3 linked regions of the Homo sapiens genome follow. The protein of the gene in region 1 purifies or fractionates together with the protein of each later gene. This does not show direct contact. Each region holds a gene or a part of one and is shown on either strand. Other genes may lie near its edges. The genes, in order: DNM3, SLC26A6 and HSF2.

Region 1 (3,653 bases):
GGTGCTTCACTTTTCCCAGGGTGGACTTTGGTGGACTTTGGTGGACTTTGTCCAGACTCTGACTGCCACAGCCATGTTTCTACCTCCACTCAGTCACTCATTTATTCCCATTTTTATTTCTCTGTGGTGATCTGACAGGTTAAAGATTTCATAAATTCCGAGCTCCTAGCACAGTTGTATTCTTCAGAGGACCAAAATACCCTGATGGAGGAATCTGCTGAGCAGGCTCAGCGCCGGGATGAGATGCTTCGAATGTATCAAGCACTGAAAGAAGCCCTTGGGATAATTGGGGACATCAGCACAGCCACCGTGTCCACTCCGGCACCCCCTCCAGTGGATGACTCCTGGATACAGCACTCTCGCAGGTAAGAAGATGGCCCCGGCCGGGTGCGGTGGCTCGCTCCTGTAATCCCAGCACTTTGAGAGGCCGAGGCGGGCGGATCACGAGGTCAGGAGATCGAGACCATCCTGGCGAACATAGTGAAACCCTGTCTCTACTAAAAACATAAAAAAAATTAGCCGGGCGTGGTGGCGGGTGCCTGTAGTCCCAGCTACTCGGGAGGCTGAGGCAGGAGAATGGTGTGAACCCGGGAGGCAGAGCTTGCAGTGAGCCGAGATCGTGCACTGCACTCCAGCCTGGGTGACAGAGCAAGACTCCGTCTCAAAAAAAAAAAAGAAGATGGACCCACCCACAACCCCTGAGCCCTGCCACGCTTGTCCAATATCATTTTCTGAGAGTGCTTTCCTAAACCAAGATGGACCTACAGAAAAAGGGGAAAAGATATTTACATTCAGGAGTAAGGATCAGATTATACTAACTCCCTTAAAAATGCAGCACAGTGCATCCTCACAATGGAATGTTATATAGTCACTAAAAAGAACAAGACAGTTCTATTAAGTCCTAAAATGAAAAGATAATCCAGTTAACGGGAAGCTTTAAAAAAAAGGGAGGTTGTATGCCAGGCGCGGTGGCTCACGCCTGTATTCCCAGCACTTTGGGAGGCCGAGGCAAGCGGATCACCTAAGGTCAGGAGTTTGAGACCAGGCTGGCCAACATAGTGAAACCCTGTCCCTACTAAAAATACAAAAATTAGCTGGGGGTGGTGGCGCACACCTGTGATCCCAGCTACTCGGGAGGCTGAGGCAGGAGAATCGCTTGAATTCAGGAGTCAGAGGTTGCAGTGAGCCGAGATCACGCCACTGCACTCCAGCCTGGGTGACAGAGCGAGACTCCGCCTCAAAGAAAAAAAAAAGGAGGTTGTAGAAGACTGTGTTCTATGGTATACAGAAAAGCAATTTATATATAGAGAGAGAAAATATATACTTATACAAATGTAGAATACAGTTAAAAAGGATGCACAAGAAACTTCTATAGTTGTTTCAACAGAGTGAAGGGGTAGGGAGAGGAAAACTTACTTTTCTCCATTTACCCTTTTATCCCTTTGACTTTCATGACATGAATTGGACTTATTCAGTCAAAAAATAATTTTTAAAAAGCAGGAAGTTACAAAACATTTTTAGAGATTAATTCAGACAGAAAGGAGGAGTGAGCAAACTATGATTTCTCTTTTTCCTCAGGTCACCTCCTCCAAGCCCCACAACCCAAAGGAGGCCAACACTAAGTGCTCCCCTCGCAAGGCCCACATCCGGCCGAGGACCAGCTCCTGCCATTCCCTCTCCTGGCCCCCACTCTGGGGCTCCTCCAGTCCCATTCCGTCCAGGCCCATTACCTCCTTTCCCCAGCAGCAGTGACTCCTTCGGAGCCCCTCCACAAGTTCCATCTAGGCCTACGAGGGCCCCGCCCAGTGTCCCAAGGTAAGGCATGGAGCAGAAATTGGGGGGGTAGTGCGCCTTGGTTCTCTTCTCATAGAATGACAGACAAAATTTATTTGAAAGAGAAAATTGCAAAGATCTTATCGTACGTGTTTGCAGTTTTCACAATGAACAGAGACTATAGGAAAATTGCCAACCCTGTTATGCCATTTAAAAATCACTTGTGATCATTGAAATTTCTCATTTATCAATTGGCACAGACTAAATAGGACTAAAGAACACTCCGTCCCAATGAATGACATTTTGGCAGCTATTGGGAGAATTTGAGGGCTTTGAAACAAAAGAGCTATGGAGGATTGTAGCAAGCTGTGTGTTCTATAGGTCATGAGAGTTCCATGGACTAAAGTCTTGCCTTCTCCATTATCAAAAGAATTCTTGAAAACCACTGACTTAGAGAATTTTATCCATCTGCCTTCTGAACTGTGATCCTTATACTCAATTTTACCAATTTTCATATAGGCTGAATAAATCTGGCTGATTGATCTGCAATTGTTTTTTTAAAAACTACACATAGAAATTTTAATATAGGCATGATTGTTGTATACAGTCACTAATCATATATAAGATAGATCATTGTACATCTGAATAATACGTGTTGACAATTATAAGTGGATTTTCAGGCTTAATTGTGAAACAATATAGCTAATAAATAATGGACCTAGAAACACACATAGTTGGAGCTGTAGTCTCACCTTCATATACTTACAGTCAAAATATACACAATGAATAGAATCAGAGATTTTTAAGGTATAAAGTACTAAGGTTTTTTTCCCCCTCAAAATCAGAAATATAAAGAGGAAAGAAAATTAGCCCATATATAAAGTTAATTTTTAAAAAATTCAATTCAGAGAATTAAAATATTTATATACTCCATGAAGGAATATCTGACTGTATATGAACCATAAAAACAGATGTGACTTCTACCCATCCCTGAAGCCTGAGCCACCTTGCCAACTGATTATGGCACTTACGTTTTATTTTAATCTTCAAGTTGTTAAGCGTAATGAAGAGAAGAGAAGAAGGGGGATCTTAAGCTAGTACACAGAGGGTGGTACAGCAAGAATAGGCAGGAGATTTGCAGTCAGAAGACCTGGGTTACTGAAGGTCTTGGGCAACTCATTTAACTCTGAGACGGGAGTTCTTTATCTATGAAACAGGGAGAACTCAATAAGGTTGTTCCCCAGATCATATGACATGAGGTATTTGAAAGAGTTTGATACACTGTAAAGACTACAGTTGTTACCACTGTTATCATTTTGGTCCTAAGCAAAGAGGATATATACACACTCTCAATCCAATTTTTTTTCTCTAAATTCAATAGACTTGGCTTATAAATTATTTGGAATGGTGCTAAATTTCTAGTAATAGCAGTACTAGCAATAGCCAACATTTATTGTGCCCTCAATATTACTAGGCATTGCCCTAAGAACTTTGTATATACATTTTTGTTTAAAGCTCACAACAAATAGGTTGTTATCCACATTTTACAGATGAGGCAGTGAGGTTAAACAGCTTGCCCAAGGCTGCTCAGCCAGTCCCTAGTGGAGCTGGACTTTAATCCCATGCAGTCTGCTTCCAAAGCCATTTCCTGACCATGACCCCAGGGTTTTTCAGCCTCATCAGTACTGACGTTTTTGTTGTGGAGGGCTGTCCTGTGTATTGTAAGATGTTTAGCAGCATCCCTCCCCTCTACCCTCTAGATTTCAGTTGCAGTCCCCAGTTGTGACCACTAAAAATATCTGTAGACACTCCCAATGTCCCTTAGGGGAGTAAAATTCCTCTCCACGTGAGAACCACTGCACTGTAGTATTCAAAAGAAT
Region 2 (3,653 bases), on another chromosome or scaffold:
CTAGCCATGCTTAAGGGCCTGTGAGCTCAGGGTTTACTCCTGGCCTGGCCAAACCTGAACCGCCAGCACTGTCCCTGTTCATGCAGCCATAATCTGAGTACATTTATCCAGAACTGGAAGTCTCCTGGCCTCTCTCTTAAGACCAGGGCTCCAGGGCAGGGCAGTGTCCTCTCCTCTTCAGACCTGCCCCGTGCCGTCCTTACAGGGACCTTTGCTGTCATGTCTGTGATGGTGGGCAGTGTGACAGAATCCCTGGCCCCGCAGGCCTTGAACGACTCCATGATCAATGAGACAGCCAGAGATGCTGCCCGGGTACAGGTGGCCTCCACACTCAGTGTCCTGGTTGGCCTCTTCCAGGTGTGGAACAGTCAGGAGTATGTGCCCCCCACCACCACTTCTGCTCCCGCCACTGTCCTGTCTGTACTCCCCTGAGTGTCTGACCATCGTCGTCCTCCTCTTGCCGTCTACTCATCCCCCTCCCATCCCACTTGCCCTGCGCTCCTCATTAGCAACCCCAGGACCCCTGCCTCTCCTGACTGCCCCTGGCCGCCCCACAGGTGGGGCTGGGCCTGATCCACTTCGGCTTCGTGGTCACCTACCTGTCAGAACCTCTTGTCCGAGGCTATACCACAGCTGCAGCTGTGCAGGTCTTCGTCTCACAGCTCAAGTATGTGTTTGGCCTCCATCTGAGCAGCCACTCTGGGCCACTGTCCCTCATCTATGTGAGTGAGGGTAGGGGGAGGGAGGGGTAGGTGTGCCCCATGGCCTTGAGTGCTAGCTGTGACCTGGCCTCTCCTCAGACAGTGCTGGAGGTCTGCTGGAAGCTGCCCCAGAGCAAGGTTGGCACCGTGGTCACTGCAGCTGTGGCTGGGGTGGTGCTCGTGGTGGTGAAGCTGTTGAATGACAAGCTGCAGCAGCAGCTGCCCATGCCGATACCCGGGGAGCTGCTCACGGTTCGAGGGCCAGGGAGTGGAGGGCAGGGGAGAAGGGCAGGTCAGGCTGGGTCCTTGCCACGTGGGCAGCCTCCTGTATTTGAGGGCCAGCTGGAGGGGGGCTGGGAGGGTTCTTGGGTATTGTGGGGGGCACAGCAGAAAGCCCCTATGTTGGTTTCTTCCTGCCCCTGACAGCATCTCCCCATAGCCGAAATGGTGTTGCCTGTCTCTCACCCTACGTGACTTTTTCCCACCCTCGAAGAAGGTTTTGCCCAGTATCTCCCTCCTCACCTCACAGTGGTTTATGTGTCCCCCTGACCATGGTGCCAGCACCTGCCTCCCTGACTCTGTCCTCTCCCACAGCTCATCGGGGCCACAGGCATCTCCTATGGCATGGGTCTAAAGCACAGATTTGAGGTAGATGTCGTGGGCAACATCCCTGCAGGGTGAGCTCTGGCCTCCATCAGGTCAGGGAGGGTTGGGCAGCCAGGACAGGACCTTGCTTTGGCCTCACAGATACCTCTCACAGGCTGGTGCCCCCAGTGGCCCCCAACACCCAGCTGTTCTCAAAGCTCGTGGGCAGCGCCTTCACCATCGCTGTGGTTGGGTTTGCCATTGCCATCTCACTGGGGAAGATCTTCGCCCTGAGGCACGGCTACCGGGTGGACAGCAACCAGGTCTGGGTGATGCGGGATGTGTAGGAGGCATCCAAGTGTATGGAGGCGCCAGCAACGGGTGGGGGAGGAACCGGTGGGACACAGGGAGACAGCAGATGTGCTGAGGCCACGTGGGGGACTGAGGGTGGGAGAGCAGGACGTGTGGGACAGCATCCAGTCTCTGGGGGCCACTTGGTGGGGATGGAGATTGGGGATGCACAGGCCTAGATACAGTGGAACAGTGACCAGCCACTTCTAGGAAGTCTTCTCACACCCGTACTGTCCCCCGTCAGGAGCTGGTGGCCCTGGGCCTCAGTAACCTTATCGGAGGCATCTTCCAGTGCTTCCCCGTGAGTTGCTCTATGTCTCGGAGCCTGGTACAGGAGAGCACCGGGGGCAACTCGCAGGTGGGCTTTGGGTGTGGGCATGGGTGTGGGCATGCACATTGCTTTGCCTGGGGAAGGAGGTCTCTCCCCTGCTCACTCCCTCCCCGAACAGGTTGCTGGAGCCATCTCTTCCCTTTTCATCCTCCTCATCATTGTCAAACTTGGGGAACTCTTCCATGACCTGCCCAAGGTGAGCCCCCACCCAGCCAGGTTTCAGGTCTTGGCCAGGCCAGGGCTCTCAAATCAGCCAGTCTAGGTTCAGGCGAGGGGTGGGGACACAAGGTTAGGTTCTGTTTTTCAAGGCTGAGATCTTCAAGGTGAGATTTGGAGACAAGGGTCAGGGGCTGGGTGGGGGTTTGTGTCTGGGGTACTGCCTGAGTGCTTGGGCTTAGTCTGGCTTTGCCTCGGTGAGGAGGGTTGTCAGCATCGGGTGCCCTCAATGGCCCCTGGTGGCACTGTCCCCACCCCAGGCGGTCCTGGCAGCCATCATCATTGTGAACCTGAAGGGCATGCTGAGGCAGCTCAGCGACATGCGCTCCCTCTGGAAGGCCAATCGGGCGGATCTGGTGAGTGCACTGGGAGCCCAGGGCAGGGACTGGGCAGCCCCATGGCTCCTCGCCGCCCTCCAACCGCTGCCCTCTGTTCTCAGCTTATCTGGCTGGTGACCTTCACGGCCACCATCTTGCTGAACCTGGACCTTGGCTTGGTGGTTGCGGTCATCTTCTCCCTGCTGCTCGTGGTGGTCCGGACACAGATGTGAGTCCGCCATGTTGGTCCCCTCATTCCAGCTAGTGAGAGAGTACCACAGGGCTCCCCGCAGCTTTCCCCACATCTCTGGGGACTTCAGGCTCCTTCGGACCCCTCTGTTATCCCCTTTTTCTGCCCCCTCTTCGTGCATTCTCTCTCTCCTTCACAGGCCCCACTACTCTGTCCTGGGGCAGGTGCCAGACACGGATATTTACAGAGATGTGGCAGAGTACTCAGAGGTGAGTGTCAGGGGCTGAGTGAGATGGTGTGGATGGGGAGACGGAGGAAGAATGAGCCTTTGTGGATTCGTTCCACACTTGGCCAGGGAACTGGGGGCTGAGGATACTTTGGCTTTGGTCTTTGGGATTTCAAGGGAGGAGTTTAGGTCTATGACCCCCTCTAGAGGTATGAAGGGACAGAGGGAGAGTGGACAGAGATGGGTCTGGGGCTGGGGAGGGGTCTGTCGTGGAGTCAACAGCACAAGCTCCACCTGCAGAGCAGCCGTGGGTCAGAGAGCCGGAATGGCAGCTCCCTGGGGCGCCAGGTTGGAAGGGAGGCATTTCCTGATCTGATCAGTGGGGTTACTAAGTCCTCAGTCATCCATTTATCTCCTGAGAGGTCTTGGGCCAAGTGCTAGGAACATAGGTGGGGGGCTCTGGAATAAAACAAGGCTGTTGCCTGCAACATGGGCACAGTGCAATTAGGCAGTGCGGGGAGGAATTAAGGGGTCTGAGACATGGGAGAGGATGAGGGGGCAGCCCAGCCCTTACCATGCATGCCTGGAGCCCAGCAGAGACCCGGGCTGTGACCCGAATGGGGTGGGAGCGGGGAAGGTCTGATTGATATGACAGCCTAGGAGGACCTCTGTCTGGGTGCAGAAAACAGAACACAAGGCAGGGGTTGGAAACCCAAGAGAAAGGTTAAGAGCCTGT
Region 3 (3,121 bases), on another chromosome or scaffold:
TTGTGAATGCTAAGTGATGAAATATTTTTATGTACACTTTTGGAAAGGTTTCGTAGTTTTTATTATATCTTGGAGCCCTTATTTTCTCTTAAATCCTAAAACTTACACAGCTTCATTTTATGTTAAATATCAGGGGAATTACTGGAATTAGTTTACAGTTGGTTACACCATATATATTTAGCCAGCATGTAGATCTGGGACTTGCAGATGTCTGGGACTTACAGGAAAAATTAAGAACCTCTGCACCTCAGAGTTTGAACATGAAAGGAGCACTGAAGAAATTAACAATGGTAAAGATATAATTTCCCTACCACAGTCAGATGTGAGGAGAGAAGAAAGTGGTTCAAAGAAGCAATTTAAATGACAGAAAAGAACTGACAGAGCTACAGAAAGGACAAGAAGAAACACCACCTCAACTTTGAGGCTTCTAAATAGTGATAAAGAGTTTTAAGGATGTCATTATGTCATCCTGAGCTACTCTAAATATGTTCACTTATGCTAAATATTCTGTTTATGAGTGAAATGTATAATACATTTTTTAAATCAAAACTACTTAAAATGAATTTAATTGCTTAGTTAATTATCTCTCAATTAACATTTTGAAACCAGTCATCTTTGATTCATTCTGATCTTTTACTCGTGACAAATTCTATCTGTTCTGCTGCTGAAATCCCCCTTCATTTCATACTTAATATAGAACATCTTAATTCAGGTTCTTTGTTTTATCCCCTCAGTGACAGCAATAGTTCCTTAACCAGTCTTGTTATCTCTACTCAGATCTCTCTCTGTAGCCCATTTTCCCTGATGTTTCCCCATCTCATATATTTCAGATAATATACCAGTATTTACATATTGTATCAATTTTTCATTTTTTTCAGAAACATAAAATATGAAACAAGTACTTATATATATATTTTTTTCTTTTAGTCTGAGAATAAAGGATTAGAAACTACCAAGAACAATGTAGTTCAGCCAGTTTCGGAAGAGGGAAGAAAATCTAAATCCAAACCAGGTAGGTATAAATATAGTATTCAGTCTCTGTAGGTTTTTTTAATCCTATGCAGAAACAAGTGCAAGCCGAGGGTAGTCTTAATTGAATATGCTGGCTTTAGTTCTGTGAATAGTGTGTCGAGGTTCTAGTATATAGAGAAAGTTGAATTGGTGAGGTAACAATTCTTTAAGTTTTTTTTTTTTATCCTATTTAACTTTAGGAAACTAAAGACCCCTCATTTCTTAATTGTTGAATAAGAGCTATTGACTTGCACATTTTAAAATTTATTGACATAGTGCATCATGTCATTTCTTGTTTGGCTATATGAGAGTAGTAATTGCCTATGTGTACATCTCTGTTTTCATTTTTTTCCCCTCAGCTTGAACTCAGTATAAGCTGGTGATAAAAGAGTGTTTTTCTGATCTTTATAGATAAGCAGCTTATCCAGTATACCGCCTTTCCACTTCTTGCATTCCTCGATGGGAACCCTGCTTCTTCTGTTGAACAGGCGAGTACAACAGCATCATCAGAAGTTTTGTCCTCTGTAGATAAACCCATAGAAGTTGATGAGCTTCTGGATAGCAGCCTAGACCCAGAACCAACCCAAAGTAAGCTTGTTCGCCTGGAGCCATTGACTGAAGCTGAAGCTAGTGAAGCTACACTGTTTTATTTATGTGAACTTGCTCCTGCACCTCTGGATAGTGATATGCCACTTTTAGATAGCTAAATCCCCAGGAAGTGGACTTTACATGTATATATTCATCAAAATGATGAACTATTTATTTTAAAGTATCATTTGGTACTTTTTTTGTAAATTGCTTTGTTTTGTTTAATCAGATACTGTGGAATAAAAGCACCTTTTGCTTTTCTCACTAACCACACACTCTTGCAGAGCTTTCAGGTGTTACTCAGCTGCATAGTTACGCAGATGTAATGCACATTATTGGCGTATCTTTAAGTTGGATTCAAATGGCCATTTTTCTCCAATTTTGGTAAATTGGATATCTTTTTTTTACAAATACGACCATTAACCTCAGTTAAATTTTTGTTTGTTTTCCTGTTTGATGCTGTCTATTTGCATTGAGTGTAAGTCATTTGAACTAATGGTATAACTCCTAAAGCTTTCTCTGCTCCAGTTATTTTTATTAAATATTTTTCACTTGGCTTATTTTTAAAACTGGGAACATAAAGTGCCTGTATCTTGTAAAACTTCATTTGTTTCTTTTGGTTCAGAGAAGTTCATTTATGTTCAAAGACGTTTATTCATGTTCAACAGGAAAGACAAAGTGTACGTGAATGCTCGCTGTCTGATAGGGTTCCAGCTCCATATATATAGAAAGATCGGGGGTGGGATGGGATGGAGTGAGCCCCATCCAGTTAGTTGGACTAGTTTTAAATAAAGGTTTTCCGGTTTGTGTTTTTTTGAACCATACTGTTTAGTAAAATAAATACAATGAATGTTGAGTACTAGTGTCTGTTATGTGTCTTCTTTAGAGGTGACACTCACATGAAACAATTTTTTCTTCTCATAGGAAGCAGTAGCTTTAAACTGTCTGTGGTTCATTATTCTCAATATGAATCATACCAAGATATTTGTGCCTCATCTCGAAAATATATTGTATATTGCAACAAGGGAGAAATATAATCTCTAAATTTAATGTATTTTAAAGTTCTTTGTTTAAAAATTATACTGGGTTGCTTTCTATGTTTCTAATAAAAAAGTGAGAGAATTATGCCTCTCATTGTCCCAAATAGTGTAAGAATATTATCACTGGATGTCTGGAGAGAAGATAAGAGAAATAGTCAAATCACCTCTTTCCTTTGAAACAGTTGCCCAAGAGAATTATGGAGACTTAATGCAAGGCCAGGGCACTTTATCATGTGAAGAATTTCACCTTTGGGCAAAGGGCTGAAAGCAGTACAATTAATATTGTATAGGGCTATTTAATGAGTTTCAAGGCAGGTTTTCCTATTGGCCATATTCTGTCAGTGTCTTAGAATTTCTTTTATTATGATGTAAAGATTCAAAGTAAGGGCTAGCACAGAAGAATAGGAAAATTCCCTTAGGAGAGTTTTAGTTAGATCCTAAAATACTTGGCTCTGATGGTGGGATCTTGGTGAATTAATTCA

The links.
Region 2: the proteins of DNM3 (region 1) and SLC26A6 fractionate together in Homo sapiens (co-fractionation; one large-scale study listed by BioGRID). This does not show direct contact.
Region 3: the proteins of DNM3 (region 1) and HSF2 purify together in Homo sapiens (affinity purification with a luminescence readout; one large-scale study listed by IntAct). This does not show direct contact.

Annotation. Positions count from the first base shown.
Region 1 is NC_000001.11:172,386,995-172,390,647, forward strand, and holds part of DNM3 (dynamin-3), read left to right. Parts: intron 1-138; coding exon 139-365; intron 366-1,578; coding exon 1,579-1,815; intron 1,816-3,653. UniProt on the Homo sapiens protein: Microtubule-associated force-producing protein involved in producing microtubule bundles and able to bind and hydrolyze GTP. Most probably involved in vesicular trafficking processes, in particular endocytosis.
Region 2 is NC_000003.12:48,628,949-48,632,601, reverse strand, and holds part of SLC26A6 (solute carrier family 26 member 6), read left to right. Parts: intron 1-205; coding exon 206-357; intron 358-509; coding exon of another isoform or gene 510-557; coding exon 558-722; intron 723-800; coding exon 801-953; intron 954-1,295; coding exon 1,296-1,378; intron 1,379-1,461; coding exon 1,462-1,609; intron 1,610-1,881; coding exon 1,882-1,995; intron 1,996-2,086; coding exon 2,087-2,164; intron 2,165-2,444; coding exon 2,445-2,540; intron 2,541-2,623; coding exon 2,624-2,730; intron 2,731-2,890; coding exon 2,891-2,960; intron 2,961-3,653. UniProt on the Homo sapiens protein: Apical membrane anion-exchanger with wide epithelial distribution that plays a role as a component of the pH buffering system for maintaining acid-base homeostasis.
Region 3 is NC_000006.12:122,430,503-122,433,623, forward strand, and holds the end of HSF2 (heat shock factor protein 2), read left to right. Parts: intron 1-927; coding exon 928-1,012; intron 1,013-1,422; coding exon 1,423-1,718; 3' UTR 1,719-2,617; downstream 2,618-3,121. UniProt on the Homo sapiens protein: DNA-binding protein that specifically binds heat shock promoter elements (HSE) and activates transcription. In higher eukaryotes, HSF is unable to bind to the HSE unless the cells are heat shocked.